2 separate regions of the Homo sapiens genome follow, and region 1 is linked to region 2. Evidence: fine-mapped expression QTL. Tissue or cell type: whole blood. Region 2 holds a variant in brackets; the other region holds the start of a gene. All regions are shown on one strand. Distances are from middle to middle.

Evidence for each region. PIP is the estimated chance that this variant, and not a neighbour inherited with it, causes the effect.
Region 1: DOCK2 starts here. The variant in region 2 is fine-mapped to the expression of DOCK2 in whole blood (TOPMed, PIP above 0.99). The same link has a PIP of 0.9 or more in blood mononuclear cells, lung and tibial nerve.

What each region holds. Positions count from the first base shown.
Region 1 is chr5:169,632,308-169,640,413 of GRCh38, reverse strand. It overlaps DOCK2 (dedicator of cytokinesis 2), which reads right to left and starts at 3,139. Exons shown (of 52, transcript NM_004946.3): 1 at 3,045-3,139. The coding sequence starts at 3,087. RefSeq lists an enhancer at 2,342-2,441 and silencers at 2,702-2,761, 2,792-3,271.
Region 2 is chr5:170,053,210-170,061,315 of GRCh38, reverse strand. It overlaps DOCK2 (dedicator of cytokinesis 2), which reads right to left. Exons shown (of 52, transcript NM_004946.3): 42 at 5,930-6,011; 43 at 4,548-4,632; 44 at 3,650-3,736. Among named protein-coding and RNA genes, the nearest start is that of MIR378E, 29 kb to the right of the region's middle. The variant G/A (reference allele first, on the strand shown) is at 4,614.

The DNA.
Region 1 (8,106 bases), 420 kb after region 2:
GAAAGAAGCTTTTCCCTCCCCTACAAGAATAACTAGAGTCCCACACAAATCTGCCTGGCAGGCTCAGCTTCAGGGTAAACAAAACTCTTTTCTACCCTCACCCTTTATCTCAGGACTCCTGCCTTGAAGCCCTCTTTATAGTCCCAAAATACCATGCCAGAGACCACAGATTATTTGTCATGAATTTGTGTCCCCACCAAAATTCTTATGCTGAAGTCCCAGTCATCAGTGTCTCAGAAGGTACTCCTATTTGGAGATAAGTGCATATTCGGAGATAAAGGAATTATTAAGTTAAAATGAGTCCTTTAGGGTGGGATGCTAATCCAATATGACCGGTGTTCTCATGACAGGAGGAAGAGACAGCAAGGGTGTGCCTGCACAGAAAGCAATGAAGAGGCAGCAAGACAGCCATCTGCAAACCATGGAGATAGGCCATGAGACAAGCCAACCCTGGTGGTGCTTTGATCTTAGACTTCCAGCCTCGAGAACTGTGAGAAAATACATTTCTGTTGTTTAAGCCACCCAGTTGGTGGTATTTTGCTACAGCAGCCTGAGCAAACTAATATATCATCCTCAATATTCTTCCTCCTCTCCTTACTTATGAAGAGAACTCCTAATTTTTAGCTGGGTACATGGCTGCCTACATTACAGACTACATTTCCTAGCTTCCCTTGCAGCTATAGTCAGTCATGTGATTACATTTTTGCCAATAGGATGTAATGTAAGAAGAAATGTCAAGTGTGCCTTCAGGAAAATGTCTTTAAAGGGAAAAGCCATGACCTTCTTTTTCCCTGCATCCTTTTTGCTGGCTGGAAGGTGGACCTGATCACCGAAGCTTAAGCAGCCTATGTGGCTCAGGAGGCAGAAGTCACATGCCAAGGATACAGTGTGAGATATAGAATGAGCCACCTTACCACCTCTTCCCAGACCATTTCTGAGCTTTCCATGAGAGACAGAAATAAACTTGCAGCTTGGTTAGGCCACAATTTTGGAGGTTTTCTGTCACCCTTTGTCACACTTAACCCTAACTGATACTGTTAGTTTCTCTTTCTACCTCCTTCTTTTCTGCCCTTTCCTCTCTCCTGCAAGGAGAAAGCTCTCTTCACTGACAAGAGCCTCAGGCAGAGTGGATTAACCTAGTAAAGGTTAACAGGCAATGTTGATTATAAGTGACCTCCTGCTAGATTAACCAGGCAGTCAGCAGACAGGTAAAACTGTTACCCATTTTCCTTCTATTCTAAGTCCAATTCCCCACTCCTATCCTAATTAACTATTTAACTTCTTCCAGATGACACTGCTCAAAACCTCCAGTGCTCAGAGAAGGAAATCCAAACTTTGAAGGTTGGCACTCAAAGCCCTTCACAATCTAGCCATAATCTACCTCTGAAATTTTTTTAACACTAAAAGCAATACTAAAACCAAAACAGACTACTTATTGTTTGACCCACACACTTCAGGGATGCCAGTTCCCTGCCTTTACCCATGATGTTCCCCTTCTAGATGCTTTTCTGGTGCCATGCAAAGGGCCTAGGGTCTGAAGACAATTGAATTTAAGGCCCGCTCCATTGCTTCCAAGTGATGTAAACTTGGTTACTTCACCTGTAAGTTGGGAATAATACACTGCCTCACATGGGGGTTCTGAAGTCAGACAGAGATTGCATGACCTTTGGTCTTGCAAACCATGAAATACTACAGTCTCATAAGGCATGACTGTCCTGAATCTGGCATTAGGGTGCATCTTGGTGCTGGTGTCTCTTGGTTCTGAAGCTGCTAGGTAAGACCCTGGACCTGAATCACTAACTCTTATTGAGCCAGCACACTACTAAATGCTTTCCATGCATAACCCCATTCAATCCTCACAAGAGTCTCATGAGACCTGCATTATTATTACTTCCACTTTATAGACGAGGAAACAGACCCTGATTTGAACTCAGTTCTGACTTCCCAGTCCAAGCCTCTAGCCTTACACATAACTCCTCAAGGGCAGAAGCTGTATCCTTCCTTACTTTGTAACTGCCCCTTGAGATATGAATTATTATTTGTTCTCTGGATGGGGACCATTTATATCAAAATGACCCCACAGTGCCCGGTACCCAGTAATTGAGTGGATAACTGCTGATCTCTCCAGGGCAGTGTTTCCCAAACAGTGGCCTGGGGACCCCCTGCATCAAATCCCTCTGGGTGTTTGGGTCTTCCAATGCCTCACCTGCGAAATATTTATCTCTGAGATGGTGTCTGGTATCCGCCTGTGTAGGAAGCTCCAGAGTGACTTTTTATTTGATATTTAAGTTTAAAAACCACAGTGAGTCCATGGAGATTGCACCACGGATGACACTTAGAGTAGCAGCACCTGAGGCCTCCCTTCCCCCAGCCACCACTTCCGCCCCTGAGCTCCAGGCAGAGGCTTCTGGGAGTTTAGATGGCTGAGGCTGACGAAGCTAGCTTCTTGGTTACCCTAAGACCACCTGGCGGGAGCCTTTTTCCCCAGAGGCTCTGGGGGGCTGAGTAGAGAACCCCACCGTCCAGCCCCATTCCCCCAAGCTTGAGCTGCCCTCTGGATGCCCTGCCAAATCAGGAGTCATCTGACCCAGGAGGAACAGACAGGGGAAGCAGGCAAATGGGTGTCGCTTTGGAGGGGGTGGAAGTATGCATGGTGGGCAGGCCAAGGCTGAGCCAGGGGAGAGTGGAGCTCCCTCTACAAGGCCAAGTCTCCCACGCGGCGAGCTGGGGCACTCCTGGGGACGCCGAGTTTGGCGCGAAGAACTGAGTTGTCAAGCGCAGGTCTTGACCCTATCTCGGAAATGTCTAAGGTTCCCTCAGCAGGCGAGAGGGCGAGGGCTGTGCTTAGCCTGCGGGGTGGGGTCCCGCCGTCCTCTCCCCGAGCCTCGGCTTTCCCGCCCCGAGGCCCCGCCGCAGGCTGCGCCCTCTGACCTGCAGGCAGCGCGCCCTGCCCACCCCGCGCCGCCGGCCCCGCAGCATCCTCCTGCTCGCGGCTCTCCCGCCACCTGTCCCGCTCCCTGCCGCGCCCTGGGGCCCGCACCTACCCACGCCGTGCCGCTCCTTGTCAGCTTTGCGCCAGGGGGCCATGGCTGGGCCGGGGCCTCGCGTCCTCCCGTGGGGAAGCCGTCAGGGGGTGGCTGGGCGCCGCAGGGCCCCACTTCCTTCCTCTTTTCAAACTCCTCTCAGGGCCCGCCCTCTCCTCCCTCGCCGGGGCTCCCCGCTCCCTCCTCCCTCCCGTTGGGCAGGGGCACACTAGAAGGCTGGTGCCCCGTAGGCTAAGACACGCCACCCCACCCCACTTCACGCAAAACTTGGGGACCACTCCCACTTTGTCTCCTCCCCAGGCGAGGGAGCAGAGGCCAGTCCCCACCTGGGGCTCGCCAGACCACCACCGCAAGTGCAGAGAGTTTCCTGATTGCCGTGCCTAGGGACTGAACAAACCTCCTTAACTCCCCTCAGCATGAGCTTTGGTGTCAGATCTCGGTTCGAATCCAGACGGGGACAAATGACTTCATTTTTCTAAGCTTCAGTTTTCTCATCTGTGAAATGGGATACTAATACCTACTTCATATGATTATTGTGAGGGTTAGAGAGACAATGTACACAGCAGGTGACATGGAAGAGTAAATGTTTACCTGGAGGTGGATCCTTTACAGCCTTTTTTTTTTTTTTTTGTGAGACGGAGTTTCGAGTTTCTCTCTTGCTGCCCAGGCTGGAGTGCAACGACGCGATCGCGGCTCACCGCGACCTCCGCCTCCCGAGTTCAAGCGACTCTCCTGTCTCAGCCTTCCCAGTAGCTGGGATTACAGGCATGCACCAGCATGCCCGGCTAACTTTGCATTTTCAGTAGAAACGTGGTTTCTCCATGTTGGTCATGCTGGTCTCGAACTCCCCACCTCAGGTGATCCGCCAGCCTCAGCCTCCCAAAGTGCTGGGATTACAGGTGTGAGCCACCGTGCCTGGCCCATTTACAGCTTTTTATCGTTTTGGTGCTACAAACCCGTTGGAAAATCTGATGTAAGCTCTAGAAGCTCTACTCTGAAAATACGTAAATACACTATTTACCAACATCACTGCAAGGTGAAGGGTGCTGTCACAGCCAGCAACAGTGGGACCCAGGAAAAGAGCCCTAGAGTTAGGCTAATGGAGACATTTCCTCGAAAAATCTCATTTTTGCTCTGAGAACAGATTCTGTCCAAAAAAAAAAAAAAAAAGTCTGATCCACAGTGATAAGGCTGAATTTAAGTTTTGCTGAGTTTTCTTTCTTTATTCATGACTCTCACTACCCCTTTCTGCCTTACACTGGAGAGTCATTAAGATAGATTAGGCAATATCACAGCTGAACTGGAGCAACAAAAAATTATTGATTTTGTTTTATCTGCAGTTATTTTCTTTTCTGTTTTCTAGCAGCACAAATTAGGTAATAATGTCTTATACAGTCAGCAGTGGTATTAGGGTTCCACCAGATGACCAGAGTAGGAGATTTTATATATATGCATACATATATATACATACATACATATATGCATATATATATACACATACATACATACATATATGCATATATATACACATACATATATGCATATATATACACATACATATATGCATATATATATACACATACATATATGCATATATATATATATATATATACACATACATATATATGTATATGAGAGACAGAGAGAGATTGGGGATTGGCTAATGCGATTGTGGGGCTGTCAGGAAGAGCAGTTTGGAAACTCACAGGCAGATGTCCTCAGGAGGAATTTCTTCTTTTTCAAGGAACCTCAGTTCTATTCATAAGGTTTGTCAACTAATTGGATCACACCAACCAAATGTATTGAGGATAATCTCCCTTAATTAAATTCAATGTATGGTAGATGTTAATCACATCTACAAAGTACTTCACAGCAACCCCTGTGAAGATTGTGAAGATTGGTATTTGATTGAATAACTGGGCCATAGCCTTGCCAAGTTGACTCACAAAACTAGCTATCACAACAATGTTATAAATTGGGACTATACAATAGAGGATGCCAAACATTTTCTGTAAAGTCACAGATAGTATTTTAGTCTTTGCAGTCCAGAAAGCAAAATCAAGTATATATGTAGGATGCAGGTACTTATGTAAAGAAAGAAAAAAGGTTCTAAATTTTTTTTATTAATAAAATTCAAAATATCATGTGAATGAGTATTTTTTGTAATACTAGCTTAGTAAGGCAAAAAAAAATACATTTTGGGAATGATATCACATTTCACCTTATTGGAGTTCAAAGTTAATGTGCCTTATCGAAATTGATTCAAATATTCATATGTTAATGCTGATCTGACAGGATATTTACTTTCTATTTCTGAAAAAAATGTTTACCAAATGGGCAATGGTTAAAAGTCCAGAAAAGCTAATAAAATTAACCTTTGATACCACTGATTCAATAACATCACAGATTTAGATATTTTCCACAAAGTACCTGATGGTGAATATTACAATTAATAATCATAAGCTTTAAATATCTTATATTTTCACCCACCTTCTAAATTTGCTCCAAAAGCCTTCTTCTGCTCCACAGATATTTTTTTTACCATGAACACTAGCAACACATCTTAGCAGATTCCACTTCAGGTTGTGTTGAATTAGTGTTTTCTCATTTTCTTTTAAAGTAATCTTGCCTATAGTTCTTCTACACAGGCTCTTCATAGAAGCTATTTCTTCATTCACTTCGAACTCAGCATTGACTTCTCAAATAAACAACAACTGAGCTGTATTGGTAATATTTGTCAACAAGAACTAAGGAAAACCACTAGAAGTCATTTTAAAATTCACTATTGATGCTTCTGTCAATGTTCTCAACCAAGCAACCAGTGTCACCAAAAGGCTAAAAGTCTTAAACTAATTTATTTTCACTGGATATATTTCATCTGCTGCTATAATCAAACATGATTTAATGAACTTAACATCAATAAAATATTTTGCCTTGCTTGCATAACAAATAAGCCACTTGGAAACTTATTCTGGTTGTAGTCTCATTTTCACTTTTTATTATTTTAAAGAAATTGTGCTGTGATGAGATATTCTGTTTTAAATTTTCTAATTTTTCTTGTCATTGCTTTTGTGTAAGTTGGAAAAGATGTGATGAGTGCTTAATCTATTATATTGTTTGGAGTGTCAACATGTAATAAACACAATGCTTTCTCCTCTGCTTTGTTTGTTTTGTGCTGCTATAACAGAATGCTACAGACTGTGTAATTTATGATGAACAGAAATTTATTTGGCTCACACCTCTGGAGGCTGGGAAGTTAAATATCAAGGGGCCAACATCCAGCAAGGGCATTTTTTTGCTGTGCCATCCCGTGGTGGAAGGTGACAGGGCAAGAGCCAGAGAGCAAGAGAAGCCCAAACTCACTTTTATAACAAACCCACTCTCACAATAACTAACCACTCCCTCAATAACTAACCCACTCCTACGATAACAACATTAATCTATTTATGCAGAGCCCTCATGATCTACTAATTACATCTTATTAGGCCCCACCTTCCAACACTGTTGCTGTATTGGGGATTAAATTCCCAACTCATGAACTTTGGGGGGGGTCACATTTAAACCATAGTGCTATTTAATTTGGTAACAAACAATACACACTCCACTGTGCCTTAGAAGCATGACATTTGGAGCCCACTATTCTTTCTTTTCTTTTTGACATGGTGGCTATAGCACTGGTAATTTTTTTAAATGTTACCATAGAGAGAGATATGCACTTTAAATGCTGTGGAGTTGTAATCTCATCCTCGTGATTAGTGGGTTGCTGGAGAGCACTGTGTAGCATTGAAAACACCATACACAGTCCTTGTTGCAAATAGTCAACTCTGCCATTGTAGAATGAAAACAACTATAAATGATGCATAAATGAATGAGCATGGCTGTGTTCCCATAAAATGGAATTTTTACTTCCTACAGTTTTCATATAGCATGGAATGTTATCTTTATTTTGATATTTTTCAGCAGTTTAAAAATGTAAAAACTAGTCTTAGTTCATGGGCCATACAAAAACATGCAACAAGCCAGATTTGATCTGTGAACCACAGTTTGCTATCTTCTGCTATACACAGTTGTGTTGTCTTCATAAACTTGTAGCCAGTTGATCTAAAATACACTTTTTTTTTTTTTTTCGATTTAGGTTTAAGCTTCTGACATACAAACAGGCAACTTCACATTAACAGTGTGGTAAAGTATCTGATGGGAGGCCAAGAGTAGGTGGTGGTGCCAGAAAGCAAATAAGATTGAACTTGAGGAGCACTGAAGTTTTTTTTTCCCCATTCAACTTGTGACACAACCTATAATAGGAATCTCTTCCTTAAATAATGTTAAACAAACAAATTCAGCATATTAAAAGAGTTGAAAAACTGCTTTCAGTTGAAGGAGATGAAGTTTAGAAATTTTGACTGAGGGTTAATTAACTTCTTAATGGGGTGGCTTTTAGTGCAGAAATCTTTAAACTTCATATGGTTAGGAGATGGCTTTTATGTTTCTGAAATATGGGCTTTTCATTACAGTTAACAATCCTATGGCATCATAAAAATTTTTTGGCAAGAGAGATCAATAGTCAAACATAAAAATCTGACTAAAACCACTTAAAGAATTTACAATAATCTTGGTCACACAATTTTATTAAACACCATCTGTCAGTTACTTGACTATTAGGTAGTACACTCTTGATGACTATAACTTCACATACATTGTGAGGGATGACTGTGGGTAAAAGGACATCTCTAGCCAAGATTTCTGTTAAGTTCAGTCCTGTGTGTCCAACTACCTCCTAGACATCCCCTCCCAGCCCCATCAATGTCTCCATATTTCAAAACCAAGCTCATATCATAACTGTACCCTAGACTTGTCCCTCTTCTGACTGTTTCTACCCAATGTTAACAGATGAAGTGACCAGACTGTGCTTTAATCAGGTGCTAGAACCCCATCTCCATCACTTACCTAGCTTTGTGGTTTGCAGCAAATTCACTGAACACTTTCTGAGCCCCATTCATTGAATACTTACTGCCTTTCAATCCCTGATTTAAACAGTTGGCATGCATTATCTCGTGTCATCCTA
Region 2 (8,106 bases):
GTAAATCAAGCTTTGATACCACACTTGCTATCAACGGGCTGTTGGGACTTAATCTAGCCCTCAAATCTCTGGTCTTTTCCCTAAGCTGAGCCTCAGTTTCTTTATCGACATAGTAACTCTTGCCAGGCTTGCTGTGAAGAGAAAATGAATTATCAGGGGAGGGTGCTTTGGAAAAAAATGTAAAAGTGTGTGTGGATGGGTGAGGGAACATAAGATGAAAGAGAAAGTGATCTCAATCCCTGGCAATTAGGTGGCATTTCATATTTTTCTTTTTTTAATTTTTTTTTAGATGGAGTCTTGCTCTGTTGCCCGGGCTGGAGTGCAATGGCATGATATCGGCTCACTGCAACCTCCGCCTCCCGGGTTCAAGTGATTCTCCTGCCTCAGCCTTCTGAGTAGCTGGGATTACAGGTGCATGCCACCATGCCCAGCTAATTTTTGTATTTTTAGTAGAGACGGGGTTTCACCATGTTGGTCAGGCTGGTCTTGAACTCCTAACCTTGTGATCCGCCCACCCCAGCCTCCCAAAGTGTTGGGATTACAGGCATGAGCCACCACGCCCACCCCAGCATTTCATATTTTTCAAAGCCATTTTACCAATATTGCCTTCTTAAGTCTACCCAGGAATCCTATGAGCTGCACAGGACAGGTGCTCTCTCATGACCTCTGAGTTCTGCCACAAATTGCTTTGGCAGTTCAAGTCCCATTGCTAGGCCTCAGTTTTCTCATATACAAAATAATGCAGGTAGACAAGAACCAGGAAGAATCAGGACAAAAAACTTGGAGAACTGCAAGCCAAACCAGGCTGGCGGAGGTCTGTCACTTAGCTAGCACATTGATTCTAGCCTTTAAAAATGTAATTCAACAGAGATGGAGGAGGGGGCTGTTGCTACTGCACTTTGCCACAGCCCTTACTAGGCTATGAAGGTATTCCAGTTTATAGCTTTAGGACTAAAAGACACCTAAGGTCCCTTTAAGCTCCCTAAAGTTCCATCATTTTGCAATTCCTATTTACAGATGATTAAAACTAAGACCCAGAGATATACAGTCCTTATCTAACATACATAGCTCATTAGTGACCACGTTGAATTTGGATCTCTGACCCCTAGATCAGGGCTCCTTGTAAAGTCTCCATTTCTCAGGGCCAAGAACAAGAACAAAATAAAACCCCAATAGGCAGAACTTATACTTGAAGCTCATCAGAAAATGCCTGTCTATATAAACATTACTGTAGTCATGATAATTTATGGAGGAAATAACCAAGAACAAGATACAAATTCATATAACACAAAAACAATCTTTGGAAATGAAGTCACTTAGAAGAGCATTCAACTTTTGCATCTGAGACACCCTGAAATTCCTGGTAACTCATCTGAGAGAGGCCATTAAAGATAAATTCACTCTGGCCAACTTTTTGAAGGTTTCCCCAATGCCATCTATGAGAAGCCATCGGGATGAAAGAAACAAGCCAAAAATCTTGACTATTTCTTTCCCAACTTCAAAACGCTGAGTTTATAAAATAAGGTAACCGGTTTAGACATTACGGGTGTCTGCATATTGATTGACTGATTAATTTATGTAAGTATTCTTTAGTTAGCATCAGTTGTGGGCCAGGGACTATTCTTAGCACTTGGAGGTATGGCAGAAAATAAAATAGACAAAATATCTGTCTTCTTGGAATTTATATTCTAGTGGAGCTTATGGTCTACTGTTATATTTAATATTCTCTTAATATTAAAAATAAACAAGAAAATTATGTAGGCTATTAGGAGATAAGTGCTTTGGGCTGACACACAGTAGCTGAGGGAATGGGAAGTACAGGGATGGGCTCTCTCAGTTTGCTACAGTTTGGCAGGAATGACTACAGAAGAGGCGCCTTGCTGAGCACCACCAGGTGACAGGGCTCAGTCAGGGCTAATGGGCAGAGGCTACAGATTGACAGAAAGTTTCTGATTCCTTACCTCCTAAATAGGGCTCATAATAGTATGTACCTCACTGGGGTCTATGAGAATTAAATGAGATATAGCTATAAACCTTTGACACAGCACCTGGGGCACTTGTTGAAACTTATGTGCCATGAAGCAAGGGCACAGACACTTCCTTCCTTTTGGGGGTACTACTTGCTGGGGTGGGCTGGGGTGGGCTCTTCTTTTTCTTAAGGAAAAAAAGATAAAGAGTCCAAGCCAGGTGCCTGACAGGGGAGGTTAAAGTCATACCCTATCTCTTTTACTAACCTTGAACAATGCACTAATTAACTCTGCATCTCAGTTCCCACATCTGTAAAATGGGAAGAATAATAATATCTACCTCACAGGGTTGCTGAGGGGTTGAAATGAGATCATGCATATGAACAGTTGAGCCCATACTCAAAACAATGTTTTTTGCTATCACCATCATTGTTATACTTTTCCAAGGTCTAGGTCATGCCTATAAAAAGGAGGCTGAAGGGCTACTGAGCTGCTGGGTTCGCTGAAAAGAGAGGGGCATTAAGGGTAGAAGTGAAACGGTCTCAATGCTATCGTCTGATACAATAGCTTGAAAACGCAAGTCAGACCACGTCCCTCCTCTGCTCATGGCTCTGTGTCACTCAGTGGGAAAGTCAAAGTCCTTATGGTGGTCTACAAGGTCCTACATGATCTGGTATCAGATGACTGTTACTCACCCTCACTTGTTCTGATCTGGACACAAGCATACTCTGGGCCCAGGGCTTTTCACTTGCTGTCTCCTCTGCTGGAATGTCTCTCTCTTCAATGTCAGCATGGACCCCTTCCTCATTTCCTCCAGGCCTCTCCTCAACAGCCAGTATAGAGGGAAGCATTCTCTGACTACCCTACTTAAAATAGCAATCCCTCATATATCACCTTTCTGCTTTAATTTTTTCCATCACAGTTATCACCTGTCATATATTTACTTTGACTTTTTAGTCCGTCTTTCCCACTAGAATGGAAGCTCCATTGCAGAATCTCTAGGTCTTACAACAGTGCCTAACATGTTAGGTACACATTAAGTATTTTCTGAATGAATGAATAAATAAATAAATAAGACATCCTAAATATGTCCATTTACAAGGTTTCCTCACAACCACACTGACCATTCCTCTGTATCTTGGGGACTGCAAGATCTTTAGCTGTCTGAGGACGTGGAGACCCTAAGCTGTGCTGAGAAGCAAAATAGGTGTTATCTGCACAAGGGAGATCAAACATTTGGATTCTAGCCAAATGATCTCTCCCTTCTGAGCCTCAGTTTTTCCAACTATAAAATGGATTCATATTGGGATACTGCACAGGTGCCCCCAAGGGGGTGCTGTGATGAGAGGAGTATGAGGGGGAGATGGAAATGATTAATGATTGTGTTCCAGGCCCTCTGCTACACCCCACCCACCCAACAGAAGCTCCCCATTCATCAGCTTTATTACTGGAGGCCATGGAAAGTTTCATTTGCAGGGAACAAAAAGGTTATCTGATGCTTAAAAAAAAAAAAAATCTGAAAGGCACTATTCTGAATGCTGCCTGCATGGGAATTCTGGGACTCACACAGCAGCTTCAAAGAAAAACATGTCTCCTTTTTAAAGTCAAAGGGGCCTTTGGAGACTGGCTGTGCCCTGCCCATCGGAGGAAGGGTGGCCCTGCCACGAATGTCCCAGACTCACCTGCGACATGTGCACCACCTCAAACCAGCGCAGGATCCCCGGCAGCTTGTATGCAGTCACGAAGGAGGTTCTCTCAATCCACATGGACTGTCCGTGGGCAGAGGGGTGGCAAGGGCAGGAAAGCAACAAACACATTTATGAAACCTGGGTATCGGAGAAGCTTGGCAGAAACCCAGCCAGGTCCCCGGGCCTCCCATCTACCCGAAAGCAGAATAAATATTGCAAGACCCAGAAACACGCTCTCACCTTACCCTTAAGAATTCTTTCCCAACATTAAGTGTAAGCTCTCCCTGGACTTAGGCCAAGTAAGTACTAACCTGGGTTTATTAGCAGTCTGAATTTTTAGGCAATATTGAATGTGTCCATTTGTTTTCTCGGGGAAGGGTTCCCAGTGTTCATTAGACTCTCAAAGAGGCAGTGGCTCCAAAAATATTAAGAATTACTGTCCAGGCCAAAGAGCTGAGACTTGGAGACACCTCCTTAATCCAGTCTTGTTTGAATCCTAGCTGGACACACACAGAGGAGACTAGCACTCAGGGGACAGTGATGACTACATTGCTGTGGCTTCTTACTGGTGTTTGCTGGAAGGTTTGATTTTATCAACACCCCTTCTTAGCCTGAGGGTTTCTACGTGCTGGCAATGCCTGAATGCCCTGTGGTTGAAAAAGTGCCTCTGACATGAGGCCTGGGTTCTGTATTAAGGGGAAAAAGGCTCAAGAAATAAGGACACAGGCCCTAATGGAAGAGATTGGGGAACGGACGTCATGGTATCCATGGAGGTTGGCTTTATTTTCTCTGGCTTTCTATCAAGTTCCTTCCCATTCTGAGGCTGGCCGATGCATGCTCTGGTTCCTCCAGGTGGCTCCAGGGAATGATCAAGGGTAGGGAAGATACTCACAGCAAACTCATTCTCTGGGTCTACGGTCCCCCTGCGCACGGGCCGGGAGTAGTGGAACCTTTGCAC[G/A]TAGTTGGATTTGTAGAAGCTGAAAGACAGGAAGAGGCTGAGGCTCCTGGTAGCCATCCCCGGCTGCTGACACCCGATCTGACCCTGCACTGTCCAGGGAGGTTCATTACAGTAAACTTCAGGCCTGGCAGAGTCCCTTGTGGTGCATTTAAAATCAAGGTCTGTGTTCTGGGCTCCGTAAGAGTGACTTTTGCACAGGCTTTCCTGACAAGGCAATTTAGAAGGTAGACTGGTCTTGTGCCCCTTTGAGAACATAGTACCCCTAGAGTATCCAGGCAATTGGAATTCTAACATTGATGGCCTAGGTCATGATTTCCTGTGATCTGCAACAAAGGAGCTGAGGTCTGAGCCTAATTTCCCAGAGGTGTCCTCAAAGGATTTCTTTAGGTGTCCCAGCCAACCCCCTAAATCAGTCTCCCTGAATCGTTGGTGAGATTCTAACTTCAGGGCCAGCAGAACACCGTGCTAGCTGCACAGTTATTGTCCCCTGCTCATGGGTGCCTGTCTGAGAAGGTGAGAAGGTGAGGGGAGGTTAAGACCCAAGCTGAGCTCCACCTGCTCTGCTGTGGCACTTCGTGAGGCTGCTGGGAGGGGCTGCCTCTCCCTGAAGGGTCCTTCATCTTGCAAAGCAGATCCTGTTTCTGACTGTCCCATCCAGAGGGGAGGACCTACTCTAAGACACTCAAGTGCTCCATTACAACCTGGGCATGGGGTAGGGGGAATGAGCTGGGCAGCTGGGAGGCATACAGCCTTGGGTCCCACAGAGGCCCCACCTTGTGGCCTCATCAGTGACTTTGCAATCTGATCTAGAACAGGTGGACATCAGCCTTCACGGCACTTCCTCTACTGTTCCTTTATCAGAGCCTGAACACACCATTGTCAATGTACAACCTTCACAAATGCTGAGGAGATGTCCCTCTGGGAGCATGTGCTCAGCATGGACAAGGCCCCCTGTCTCCACCCTGCCTATCACTTGCCCAGCCACACTCTGTCTGTGGACTCCCTGGGGCCACTCTGAGATCAACCTGAGCAACAAATAGGCTGACTGCATCCAGTTGAGCAAATGCTCGATGCTTGCTGAGGATTTGCTGAGCCATAACCCTGGCTCTCCCATCCTTCCTGGCTTCAGCCTTGTCAGGGGCAGAGCCCAGCTAATTGGAGGGTGATTCTTTGCCCAAGAGGAAAAGGGGGGAAAAACTGGCTAAGATAGAGAAGGAACTAGAAAGACACTGGGGTCTGTTCTGCCACCAGCTCAGTTTGGTGGCCCCAATGGGTTCTCTTCCCCATCCTTCTTCCCTGTGGACAACGAGTCTTACTTTATAATCTGGTCAGGCACTGGCTTATTCTTGAACCTGGGATGTTCATCCAAGACAGGCTGGACAGTGAAGCACTGGATATCTGGAATCCCTGTAGTTAAGGACTTATATCTGTTGGCTGCGGGGACAGTTTTAAGTATAGCTGGTCCTTGCTGAGACCTTCCAGGCCAGCCTTTATGGGGCCACATTTTTACTGAATGATGAACCTCAGGTTGCTGGCTGCCCACTAGGCACTAATGACTAGTTAGTCACTGAGGTCCTTATCAGTGCTGTCACCCTGCAACCTTATGCCAGGGCTCAGCCCCTACAAACAGAGTTGTCTAGTGGTGTTTAATCATCATCATTGCTATATTATCATTAATAATAATACTATTGAATGAATTTATAGCTCTCAAATCAATTGCAGAGTACATCTTCCCATGATCTCATTTGATCTCCTCAATTCCACTGAGTTGCCTTATTAACCTAAATTGTCCCCTTCGAGGCCAGAGAAGCCAGGCCACTTGTTGAAGGTCACACAACTTGTAAGAACAGATCCGAGTTTGTATTTAGGTCTTCTAACTCTAAGCTCAGAATTCTTTCACTCTGGACTCACTACTCAAAGGCGGCCCTTTGACCAGTAGTGTCAGCATTACCCGTAAGTTTGTTAGAAGTGGAGACTCTGGACTATCTGAGAACCAACTGAGTCCGGATCTGTAAAAGATCCTTGGGTGAAACATATGCATGCTAAAATTTGTGAAGCACTGCTATAGAATATGCAAATAAATGTCATTTTGCACCCCAACTCTGAAAATTTGAAAGCAACTGCCTATGGCAGGATGGTAAGGAGCTGTGTTCAGACAGTGGAAAAGAGTCCCATGGTGGATTAGTGATGCCTGCAACAGGCACAGATATTGGAAAAGCACTATGTGGGTCAGACCCTTGTCATGCCTCTTCTAGGTCTGTCTTTAGTCCTTTTAAGCTGACAATATGGCAAACTGAATGAAAAAAGTCAGCGGTCACTGGTCCCACTCCTGACCCCTCTTCCCTTTCCCTACCTCCCATTTCTTCTTTACCCACGTCTTTTATTTAGGTATTCAAGGTCTTTCCTCCCTCTATTCTACCCAATGACCACCATGACTCCAAAAAATCTTTTCCTGGGCCTGACATGTCTGCCAACTAAGGAATCAAGAACTCCTCTGGCTAGCATTCAAAGCTAGGCCAGTATGGCCTTCACCCATTTTTTCATCATTATCTGGATATCCAATGGATCCTACTACTTCCTTTCCTTGGAACATTTTCCCTTATCAGCATCCCTCTCTTGTGAACCCTTTGGACAGATGTCAAATACCACAGTCCATGAAAACAATTCACCCCCCAGTTAGGAGTTGTTTTCCTTCCTTTGGCTTTCCACAGCCTTCGTCTTTGCTTCTCTTAGGATCCACCCTCCAGCTCCTTGTAGGCTTCCTCATCCCCCCAGCCCACCTCACACCCTCCATCCTGCCCAGATTGTGAGCTTTTTCATGGCAGAGACTATGGTTCTTTCACACATAAGAAATGACCAAAACCTAGTTCCAAATTAAATTGAATTGCCTCTGTCTGATGAACTTACTCTATGCTAAGAAGTTAGGTGTTTCATTGATTTACTTCTGATGCCTGTTTCTGCCTTAAATAGATTTCTCTTCTTAAGAGATGGCAATGTTTAACACGAATGAATAAATCTCAGTGAAGGTATTTCTATGATTTTCAGGAAAACCATTTTCTTTCTCAAGCCATGTGGCCAACAGCCTGCTCTGGGAAGAAAATCACTCTGGATTAAGTCTAGGGCAGGGGTTGGCAAACTATGGCCCTGCGGTCAAATCTGGTTCACTGCCTGTTTTTGTAAGGCCCAGAGGCTAAGAAGAGTTTTCAATGGAGGGAAAAAGAGTATTTTGTAACGTGAAAATGATAGAAAGTTCAAATGTTAGTGTCCATAGAGTTTTATTGGAACACAGCAATACCCGCGCATTTTTGGGTTTTCAGTGGCTGCTCTCCCACTACAACAGCGGAGCTGAGTAGTTGTGACAGAGACTGCATGGGCCACAAAGACTCAAATACTGCCCATCTGATCCCTTCCAGAAAGTTTGCAGACCCCTGTTTTAGAGAAGGTTCTAGGTCATGTTTACTGATCTTAGCCACTGGTGTTGGCCCAAGAGGAG